Linked DNA regions of Homo sapiens: region 2 is linked to region 1. The links come from fine-mapping of genetic effects on gene expression. A gene starts in region 1. The other region holds a variant in brackets. All regions are shown on one strand. Distances are between the middles of the regions.

Evidence for each region. PIP is the estimated chance that this variant, and not a neighbour inherited with it, causes the effect.
Region 2: its variant is fine-mapped to the expression of TMEM11 in whole blood (INTERVAL, PIP 0.97).

What each region holds. Positions count from the first base shown.
Region 1 is chr17:21,212,139-21,217,512 of GRCh38, reverse strand. TMEM11 (transmembrane protein 11) reads left to right here and starts at 3,352. Exons shown (of 2, transcript NM_003876.3): 1 at 3,352-3,422. The coding sequence starts at 3,361. It overlaps TMEM11-DT (TMEM11 divergent transcript), which reads right to left and starts at 3,188. Exons shown (of 2, transcript NR_184102.1): 1 at 3,063-3,188. RefSeq lists enhancers at 2,371-2,580, 3,351-3,450 and silencers at 2,741-3,010, 3,131-3,270.
Region 2 is chr17:21,127,627-21,133,000 of GRCh38, reverse strand. The region is part of intron 1 of DHRS7B (dehydrogenase/reductase 7B); the gene reads right to left. Among named protein-coding and RNA genes, the nearest start is that of DHRS7B, 3.4 kb to the right of the region's middle. The variant TG/G (reference allele first, on the strand shown) is at 3,296.

The DNA.
Region 1 (5,374 bases):
GTGCTGGGGTTACAGGTGTGAGCCATTGTGCCCAGCCTTCAAATGTTACCTTTTTAGAGTGACCTCTTACCACCTGTGATCTCCAAGTCACTCCATTATATCATCCTGTTCCTTTTCTTCTTGGTACTCCTCTCTGAAAATATTTACTTAAGTTGTTTATCCCATTGGAATGTAAAGCCCGTTAAGACCCAGGAACAGTGTTTGTCTTACTAAACACCGTATCTCTGTGCCCAAGAGTACCTGCAGAGTATGCCTTCAACGATTTAAGAATGAATGAATGAAAAGTGTAGTAAGAGAAGTAGCAGATTACTTTGAGCACCAGCGAGGACATGCCTTTCCACTGGCTGCCTTCATACAGCAGGACAGAGGGCTCACGGGAGTCTCCACCGCAGGACAGCCCCCAGGAACTAATTCCCACCACTCAGGCTGTGCCCTCCAAAGGTGCTCAGCTAATACATACTGAGTCAATCAGGCTGCCTATGAACCTTCCAGACAACCTCCGTGCATTAACAGTAATCAGGAGGAAACACCGTGAGGATCTTAGACCAAGTTGGCAGATTAGAAGCAGACGGTCATTCAGAAGTTAAGGGGAGAGTAAAAAGCTGGAGAAATGGGATGTTCATTAGGGCCACAGTTGTTTCAGCATTTACATTTACTCTATGCACTAGACCTACCTCCAGTGCTTCTGGAGAGGCACAATGGCAGAGTGTAATCTCTGTAACTGGACAGTCTGGGCTCAAATCCTAGCACTTTCCTGGCTGGCAGTGTGAGCAAGTCACTCAGGTCGTCTGTAAGTTGATTTCCTCATTTACAAAATGAGATTGTTGATTAAAAAAAAAAGTGATACTATTATTAAGACAGAGTCTTGCTCTGTCATCCATTCTGGAGTGCAGTCGTGCGATCTCAGCTCACTGTAACCTCCACCTCCCGGGTTCAAATGATTCTCATGCCTCAGCCTCCCGAGTAGCTGGGATTACAGGCGTGTGCCACGATGCCCGGCTAATTTTTGTATTTTTAGTACAGACGAGGTGTCACCATGCTGGCCAGGCCGGTCTTGAACTCCTGACCTCAGGTGATCCACCCGCCTTGGCCTCCCAAAGTGCTGGGATTACAGGCGTGAGCTAACGCACCTGGCCAACAGTATCACTTTTATACAGTTGTTGTGAAAATCAAGATGTAGATCACTTAAAATATAAAACAGCACTTGGCCTCCATACACGTATCACCTCATGAAATACCGCAATCCTCTGAGGGGAGATACTATCATCCCATGATACAAACCAGGCAGCTGAGAAACAGAAGTTACACAAGCAGCCCCTGAGCCAGAAGTGCGTTCTAGAATCCCTAGTATACCCTCTGAATCACCACACTGATACAAAGAAAAGACAGCCATATCCGCAGTGTCATACCATGGAACTGTTAAGAGGTCTCCAGCATGAACTACGCTGACACTTGGAGGCAGGGCTGTATGACTCAACAGGAAGGCCAGGTACTTTTTAGAGACCAGACAGGTACAAGGTCTTGAAGGACAAAAGTTGGCTGGGAGAGCTGGGCACCGTGGCTCATGCCTGTAAATCCCAGCACTTTGGGAGGCTGAGGGGGATGGATCATGAGGTCAGGAGTTGGACACCAGCCTGACCAACATGGTGAAACCCCGTCTCTACTAAAAATACAAAAATTAGCTGGGTGTGGTGGCACCACCTGTAATCCCAGGTACTCAGGAGGCTGAGGTAGGAGAATTGCTTGAACCTGGGAGGCGGAGGTTGCAGTGAGCCAAGATCGCACCACTGCACTCAAGCCTGGGCGACAGAGCAAGACTCTGTCTCAAAAAAAAAAAAAAAAGTTGGCTGGGAGGTAAAAGCATTTTAGGTAAAGCATAGAACATCTACGTATCTGCAAACCCTCTGAATTTACTAGCCTGGCAAGTTCCAGACGGGAAAGGTAGGCAGTTGAATTTGGAGAGCTAGGCAACTTCCAAACTAAGGAGGGGCTTCTTGATTGTGCTAAGGAATTTGAATCACACACTGTAGGTGATGAGGGACGGTGAGAGGATTGCAAGCAGCTAAAACTGTGGTAGAATGTCAGCTGGAAGGAAATCGAAAGGAATCCTCAACAAGGAGAGGGTCGCCTTTCCGTCTGCTGGCCCTCCTGCTGTGGCCTGCGGCGGGGTGGGAAGGGGGGTTCCACTACACAGAAGTGTGACGCGCAGGGCTGGGCTTCTTCTAGGCTGAATTCGGGACAGATTTTCGCATTTGTTTTGCTCAAGTATTTATGGGACCAATTAATATGTTTAGCAACGTTGTCTGTGGGAGCAGTAGAGGAACTGAGAAGTTCACAAACTGTAAGAGATCCTCCAAAGAGTCCACAGGTCTGAGGCAGCAGCACCTGGGAATCTCTGGGCTCCAGTTAGTCCTTCCTGACTTTGACTCGTTACAGCAGTGTCCAGACAGGGATATGTCGGGTCCTGTGGCAGGGTTCCCGTCAGGTGGGATGGTTTAGCCCCGCATCTGCCTTCAAAGATCCCGAGATTATGCCGTCGCAGCGGCCAGGGCAGGAGTGGGTGCGTGGCAGGGACTGAGTCTAAGAGGCCTGGAGGCCCTGTCTAAAACAGAGCTGTCGCTGGGCCCTCTCGCCTTCAAGCAGTTATCATACAGCTATTCCCCTTTCTTGTTTTCAGACCCTCTCCTCTAACAGCCTGCACCTGCAAGCAGGGACCTCCGTGGCAGCAGGGACAGCGTGTCTGTCTCGGCCTCCAAAGTACCCCGGAGTCTAAGAGAACTGGGGGAGGATGGTGCGGGAGCAGCGCCCGCCTCCAAGGAGGGCCCGGGCGGCGCCTCCCGCCCCTCGGTGACCTTATGGGCCAAGGCTGTGAAGGGCAGGCGTGGCGACGCGGAGGGGCCCGGCGCTAGTAGCCCGCAGACAGCGCGGCGGCCCCCAGCGGGAGAGGCAGCCTGGCGGCCAGGACAGCGCGGCCGGGCGCCTCCGCGCAGTGCTCTGGGAGTTGTAGGCACTTGCCTCTCCTCTCTCCTTCAGCTACTGGCTCTCGAAACTCAAGGACCTACCGGTGGGTGGGCGCCTGTGACTCCCAGGCTGCGAACGCCGGGAACTCAGTTTCTTCAGAAATGCTCGAACCAGGACGGCTCCTGGAGTCCTCGCGCCCTCGCAGAAGGACTACGGGCCCCGGCGACCCCGGGGGCGGGGCTTCCGGCGCGCTGCCTTGTGGGCACGGTAGTTCCGCCGGGTCTGGCTTCCGCCTGCCGAGCGGCCCCGGACCGCAGGCCGGACTACACTTCCCGTCGGCCCGCCTGCTCTCCCGATGCCGCCTTGGCGCGAGACGTTGGCAAGCAGAGTGTCTCCAAGATGGCCGCTTGGGGAAGGAGGCGTCTTGGCCCGGGCAGCAGTGGCGGCAGCGCCCGAGAGAGGTGAGATCCAAGGGCTTGTTGCCCCCAGTGCAGGCGGCTCAGCGGCCGGAGAGCCCAGCGCGGCCTCCGAGGGCTGCAGCAGCCTTCCTTCCCTGGTTTCCCCGCGCTCCCCCTACCCTCGCCGGGCATACTGGGTTCCAGTTCCGGAGGATCCGGGATCCGGGTGGGAGCGAGGTCGAAGGCCTCGGCGGAGAGCTTAGGGGAAGGGGCGTTAGCCGGGCTGAGTAAGGTAGGCAGCGGCCATGCGGGGCGGGGCCCGAGGCCGGGCCGTGCTGAAAGGAACTGGCGCCCAGCGCAGGCCTCAGGGACCCGCCTAGCTGCCCGCGGGCCGATCGGCTGCTGAAGCACCCTTCCCGCCTGGGCACGCGCGTGGCCATCTCGGCCGCGGCCCCAGACGTGTAGAGGAAGGCAGGGCCCCCGGAGAGAGAAAGAAGGGGAAGCCTTCACAGAGCAGGCCGGCCGCGGCAGGGGTAGTTTGATCTGCACGTTTACTAGGGAGCTTTAGCTCCCGCCAGATGTGTCTCTTCCGAGCCCAGAGCCGGCCACTTCCTCGAGGGAAGATTCTGAAGACTTTTGGATGGTTCTGTGCAAGCGCTCCTGCCGTAGAAGTCCTTTAAAGTGACCTTTCCTAATGAATGGTGTGTGGGCAGGGAGCTAGGAGCGTGTTTCTTCCAACAGGGACCTCCATTTGAATAACTGATTTCTAGAAGATGAGATTGGAGTAGTTTCCGTGTTTCATGTTCAAGTTGCAGTTTTTGCATCTGGGAAGCAGTTTCAGCTAGTGGAAACCACTAGAAGCTGTTCAGCCACTAGAAATTTGGGAGAAGATGTATTGGTGGAGCCACCTGGATTAACTGTCCGCTAAAGCTTGATTGTTATAGCAGCGGTCAGCAAAAAAGGAAAAGTTTTTGTTTTGCTGGTTCTCCCCCTCCCCGTCTTTTTGGTGAGGATTGTCTAACAGAAAAGTTATCTTCCTCTCAACTACTCTGCATTATTCCTTTTCTGTGACTGATTCCATCCCGTGTTCATTGCTATTGCTTGCAGATGGCTTTCCCAGCTGGGAAGATTCTTCCTGTTTGGCAGTTGTGATAGAATCCTTTAGCTTGCTTGCACTTTATTCTTTAGCCCAGTTATCCAGCGTTGCCCATTCTGCATTTCCTCTTCCTTGGAAAAGCAGTGGTAAACACACTTTTGTTTTTCTAACTCCCGCCTGGTATTAGATTGGACCATTTAAATAAGTTACCTCAATGGTTTTCAGATGCTCTTAAAAACTAGCAAACATTTTCAAGATATTCAATGCAAACAGTAATACGAAATAACCTGTTTAGAAAACAAAGTATTAGAAACATACGCCCTCTTGTTGGACTAAAAGCATCTGAAAAGAGCCGAATAGGGATGCCTCAGGCAGGGAACAGGAGCCTTGCCAGCACAGGTTAAGCTTTTATTGATCTAAGAAAATAGATGCTGAGAATTGTTTTTGTTTTGGCTTGAGACAACTGTTTATTCAAAATGGATCTGCAAATTAGCAGTGCATAGGCTGGATCCAGTCCTTGACTGTTGAACCTCAACAGTTTTTAAGAGAATTTAAATTAGTTGCCAGCAGATTTCATATAAAACGCTCCCTGAAAAGCTGGGTAGTGGCTGACTCTTTTTGGTCGGGACAAGTGCTTGGTTCCAGTTCTTGGTTCCTCACCTGACAGCTTGACTCAAATCACCTGACAGCTTGACTCAAATCACCTGTCAGCTTGACTCAATGCATTTGCCTGCTTGGTCTCTGTAGGTGTTCAGGTTGCACCTTTGGCCTGGAACTGAAGGCTCTACTCACACACGCAGATGTTGTGTGTCAGCAGGAATGTGGCATTTGGTTTTGTAGTTTGGATGTCACCATCTACTCTCCTAGATAACGTGGTATGGGTGGAGACTACCTGTCTGTTTGCTCTTGCTGTAAACCC
Region 2 (5,374 bases), 85 kb after region 1:
ATGGCTAGCAAATGGTGGAAAAGAGATTTCAACCAACGTACTCAGACTCTGAAGCCCACATTCTTAACTCTTAAGTGCATCAAATAGGGGGTCATGTAAAAAAAAAAATCCTTTAGCTGGAACTTTAAACAGGAAGGATTCTAATACTGTCTAAGAGATGAAGAGATCCCTAAGCTTAGCTCTAATCACCTTGTTATAAGAAGTTTAGCCTAAAGCTGCCTCCTTACATATTTTAAGTTTAGCCTAAATGTTCCTCCATAGCTAGTGACCTGTAACCTAACTGGATGTGCAAACAAACTTTAACCTACTCTTGTAACAAGTAGCCCAGTCTCAGCCAATCACAGCAGCCCAGTTTCAGCCAGTCATAGGCAGCCAACTGCTCAAATAAGGCAAACACTAGGCTGCAACCAATCTAGCTCTTTCTACACCTCACTTCCCTGTTTTTTTTTTGTTTTTTTTTTTTTTTTTTTGAGACAAGGTCTCCCTCTGCCACCTAGGCTGGGGTGCAGTGGTGTGATCATAGCTCACTGCAGCCTCAACCTCCCAGGTTCAAGCGATCCTCCCACCTCAGTCTCCTGAGTAGCTAGGACCACAGGCATGAGTGGTACACCTGCATATCTCTATCTATCTATCTATCTATATATATATATATTTTTTTTTTTTTAAGAGATGGGGTCTCCCTATGTTGCCCAGGGTGGTCTCAAACTCCTGGGCTCAAGCAATCCTCCTGCCTTGGCCTCCTAAAGTGCTGGGATTATAGGTGTAAGCCACTGGGCCTGGCCTGTACCTCACTTCCATTTTCTGTATGTCACTTTGCTGTTTCTGTCCACAAATACTATCCAACCATGTAGCTACCCCAGAGTCACTCTGAACCTATTCTAGTTCCAGAGGCTGCTGATCTGCAAATCATTCTTTGTTCAGTTAAACTCTGTTGAATTTAGTTTGTCTGAAGTTTTAACAACTCAAACAGAATACAAAGGCTTCTAAGCAACAATTGAACATAAACAAGTTAGCTGCTTAATAGGAACTCAGTACAGTTTCTTTGATTCAGTTTAGCTAACATTTTAAACCAATCTGGATTATAATGCCATACTCATAGAGAATTCTGCAATGGTAGTTTCTTAATGTAGTAGTATCCAATTTAATGACCACTAAGTGCTGCTCATATAAACTGGAAAAATTTATATCCCCTTCAGAAATTAGTGTTCCTAGTACAAACATAGCCTTACTTAATAAAACACTAGCTAAGTACAGCAAGGAAGCTCAAACCACTGGTAAGCAATATTCAATCAATTTATCAGTCATCTGAACCAGAGCAACTCTATTTTGAATAGAGGCTGGGTAAAATAAGGCTGAGACCTACTGGGCTGCATTCGCAGGTTAGGCATTCTAAATCACAAGATGAGATAGGAGGTCACATAAGATACAGGTCAGAAAGACCTTGCTGATAAAGCAGGCTGAGGTAAAGAAGCCGGCCAAAACCCACCAAATGGAAAATGGCAATGAAAGTGACCTCTGGTCATCCTCACTGCTCATTATATGCTAATTATAAGGCATTAGCTCGCTAAAAGACACTCCTACCAGCACCATAACAGTTTACAAATGCCATGGCAATGTCAAGAAGTTACCCTATATAGTCTACGAAGGGGAGGAACTCTCAGTTCCGGGAATTACCCACCCCTTTCCTAGAAAATTCATGAATAATCCACCCCTTCTTTAGCATATAATCAGGAAATGACCATAAAAGTGGCCAGCCAGCAGCCCTCAGGGCTGCTTTGCCTATGGAGTAGCCATTCTCTTGTTTCTTTACTTTTCTAATAAACTTGCTTTCACTTTTCTCTATGGATTGGCCTCAAATTATTTCTTACACAAGATCCAAGAACCCTCTCTTGAGGTCTGGATCAAGACTCTTCTCCAGTAGCAAATTCAGTGGCCATCACAGACCTCTCCCTCCACTAAGCAGTTTAAATGGCCAAGCCTCATGTTACTGGGAACTTTAGAAGATAGGAGGGAGAGCTCAGGTAAAATCCTAAGGAATTTGTTGTATTTCCTATCTGGGTGGGTGGCAAGAAGCTTTCAAACTGAATTTACACACCATTCAATCCCAATTTTCACCCTCATGCTTATGGCCTTCCAGAATAGAGAGTTCATTTTTGCATTAAAATAACATTGGCTACCAAAGAAAGGTTTCTTATGTGTATAATGGGGTGGGAATGAATAATTCCTACACCATCCAACATTATGGATGTTGCTCTAGTCCAACATTTTACTGTACTGTAAGTAAATTTTTTTTTTAGTTGTCATGCAAACATATAGTAAAAATTTTAAAACTGAATTTTCACTGTTTCCAAAGGGAAAGAGATCTTCTCTCCTTCCTTTTCCTCACAGCATTTCTTTGAAAAACCCAGTATTTATAAATTATTCCTCTGTCCCTTTGATATGTATGCAAATCTTTTTAAAGGCTAAATAAACTACCCCTAGCTTAGCTTGTTTAAACCCAGTAAATACAGTAAAACCCAGGACTGTTTTTCTGAAGGGCCTGGAACCCCCCCTTTACAAACGTACGTACATACATACGTAAGTTTATTTATTTATTTATTTATTTATTTTTTGAGGTGGAGTCTCACTCTGTAGCCCAGGCTGGAGTACAGTGACACAATCTCGACTCATTGCAACCTCTGCTTCCCAGTTCAAGCGATTCTCCTGCCTCAGCCTCCTGAGTAGCTGGGATTACAGGCACACGCCACCACACATTTTTGTATTTTTAATAGAGACGGGGTTCGCCATGTTGGCCAGGCTGGTCTCGAACTCCTGACCTCAGGTGATCTGCCCTCCTCAGCCTCCCAAAGTACTGGGATTACAGGCGTGAGCCACCGTGCTCAGCCAAACCCCCTATTTTAAATGGAAATATCCAGGAAGACAATGCCCCAGCCCTATCCCTATCACTGTGGAAGTTTAGCCTAGGCACCTCAACTACTTGTTTTATCATAGAGCTGTTTCATGTTTTCCTTTGGAAAAAAGTAACTAGGTAGCACAGATGACCAACCCAATTACCAGGTGAATTTAGAATGAACTATGAAAACATGTACAGCAAATGGTGCTGTCAAGTCTTCTTATAAGAGGACAAATTACCATTAATCTTGAGACTACATAATGGGTTGTATCTGCTCAGCTGCATACAAATAAGTGGTGGGATTTCTTTTCTGAAAGAAACTGCATTAGCATATTATCCATAATACATTCCAGTCTGGTTTAATGCTTATTTTTTTCTTTTTCTTTTTTTTTTTTTTTTTTT[TG/G]AGTCAGGGTCTTACTCTGCTGCCCAGGCTGGAGTGCCGTAGTATTATCACAGTTTACTGTAGCCGCAAACTCCTGGGCTCAAGTGATCCTCCTGACTCAGCCTTCTGAGTAACTGGGACAACAGGTACACACCAGCACGCCTAGATAATTTTTTATTTTTTGTAGAAATGGGGTCTCCCTATGTTGCCCAGGCTAGTCTCAAACTCCTGGCCTCACATGATCCTCCCACCTCAGCCTCCCAAAGCGCTCGGATTATAGGTGTGAGCCACCACCTACAGCCTCACAGGGGTCTTTAAGTAACAAGATACAAGCTCCTCCTAGTCTCAAGACCTCACACATGCCCTTCCCTCCTCCTGTTAGCTCTTTGTCCAATTTAACTCCAACTCAGTCCTTTAAGTCTCAGCTAAATATTATTTTCTTGGGAAAGCCTTCCCTGTCTCTCCTCATTTCCCCCTCCGCATGCCGGTGACTCCATTATGTATCCTCACAGCACCCTCTACTGTCCTCCACAGCATGCATCACAATCGTAATTAATATTTAGTTTTATTTATATATTTACTATCTCCCTTGCTAGATTTATAAGCAATTTAAAGACAGGGGCTTTATCTGTTTTGATCATCATTGTATCCACAACACCCAGCACAATGCTGGTACACTGTAAACGTTCAATAAGTATCTGAAGGAATGAATGAAATTTGTAGCTAAGCGCTAGGTTCTGGAGTGACATGGCATTGGATCGGCCTTTACTAGCTCTATGCCTTTGTTGTTGTTTGTTGTTGTTGTTGTTGTTGTTTGAGACAGGGTGTCACTTTTTTTTTTTTTTTTTTTTTAAGACGGAGTCTCCTCGCTCTTGTCGCCCAGGCTGGAATGCAGTGGCGGCATCTCGGCTCACTGCAACCTCTGCCTCCCAGGTTCAAGCGATTCTCCTGCCAAAGCCTCCCGAGTAGCTGGGATTACAGGCGCCCACCACCACGCCCGGCTAATTTTTGTTTGTTTGTTTGTTTTGAGACAGAGTCTCACTATGTCGCCCAGGCTGGAGTGCAGCGGCGGGATCTCGGCTCACTGCAAGCTCCGCCATCCGGAGCACGCCATTCTCCTGCCTCAGCCTCCCTAGTAGCTGGGACTACAGACGCCCGCCACCAAGCCCAGCCAATTTTTTTGAATTTTTTTAGTAGAGACGGGGTTTCACCGTGTTAGCCAGGATGGTCTCGAGGTCCTGACCTCGTGATCCGCCCGCCTTGGCCTCCCAAAGTGCTGGAAATACAGGCGTGAGCCACCGCGCCCAGCCAATTTTTGTATTTTTTAGTAGAGACGGGGTTTCACCACGTTGGCCAGGCTGGTCTCGAACTCCTGACCTCAGGTGATCCGCCCGCCTCAGCCTCCTAAAGTGCTGGGATTACATGTGTGAGCCACTGCGCCCAGCCAAGACAGGGTCTCACTTTGTCACCCAGACTTGAATGCAATGGCGTGATCTCGGCTCACTGCAGCCTGTCTCCCAGGTTCAAGCAATCCACTTGCCTCAGCCCCAACAAATAGCTGGGACTACAGGCGTGTGCTACCTTGCCTGGCTAATAGCTCTATGCCTTTGGATAAACTTCTTAACATCTCTAAGCCCATTTCTCCCTCCATAAATAAAAATTATAGTTCCTATGATTAGGGTTATTACAGGATTGAATAATTCAGTAAAGGGATTAGTACAGTGCCTGTAACATAGCAAACACTCAAAAAATATCAACTATTATTAAGGAATGGAGAAAAGGGGACATGTACATGGTAGGGAAGGCATATTCCACACCCTTGGCAAAGGCACAAACATAGCTTCCATTATGCAAACACACCGTTGCAATCGGCAACAGTGTAAGCAAGAATTCTGCTTACTAAATGTATGAGTGTGTGAAACCCAAACGTTACTTCAAAAGTAACTTCACGATTCTCCAATCACTACATGGAAGGTTTGGAAACTGAAAAAAAGAGCATTATGTGGCTACCATTTGTTGAATACCTACTATGTGCCAGACACCAGCTGAGCACCTTGCACGCGCAGTCTCATTTACGCTTCACAACAACCTTATGAGTG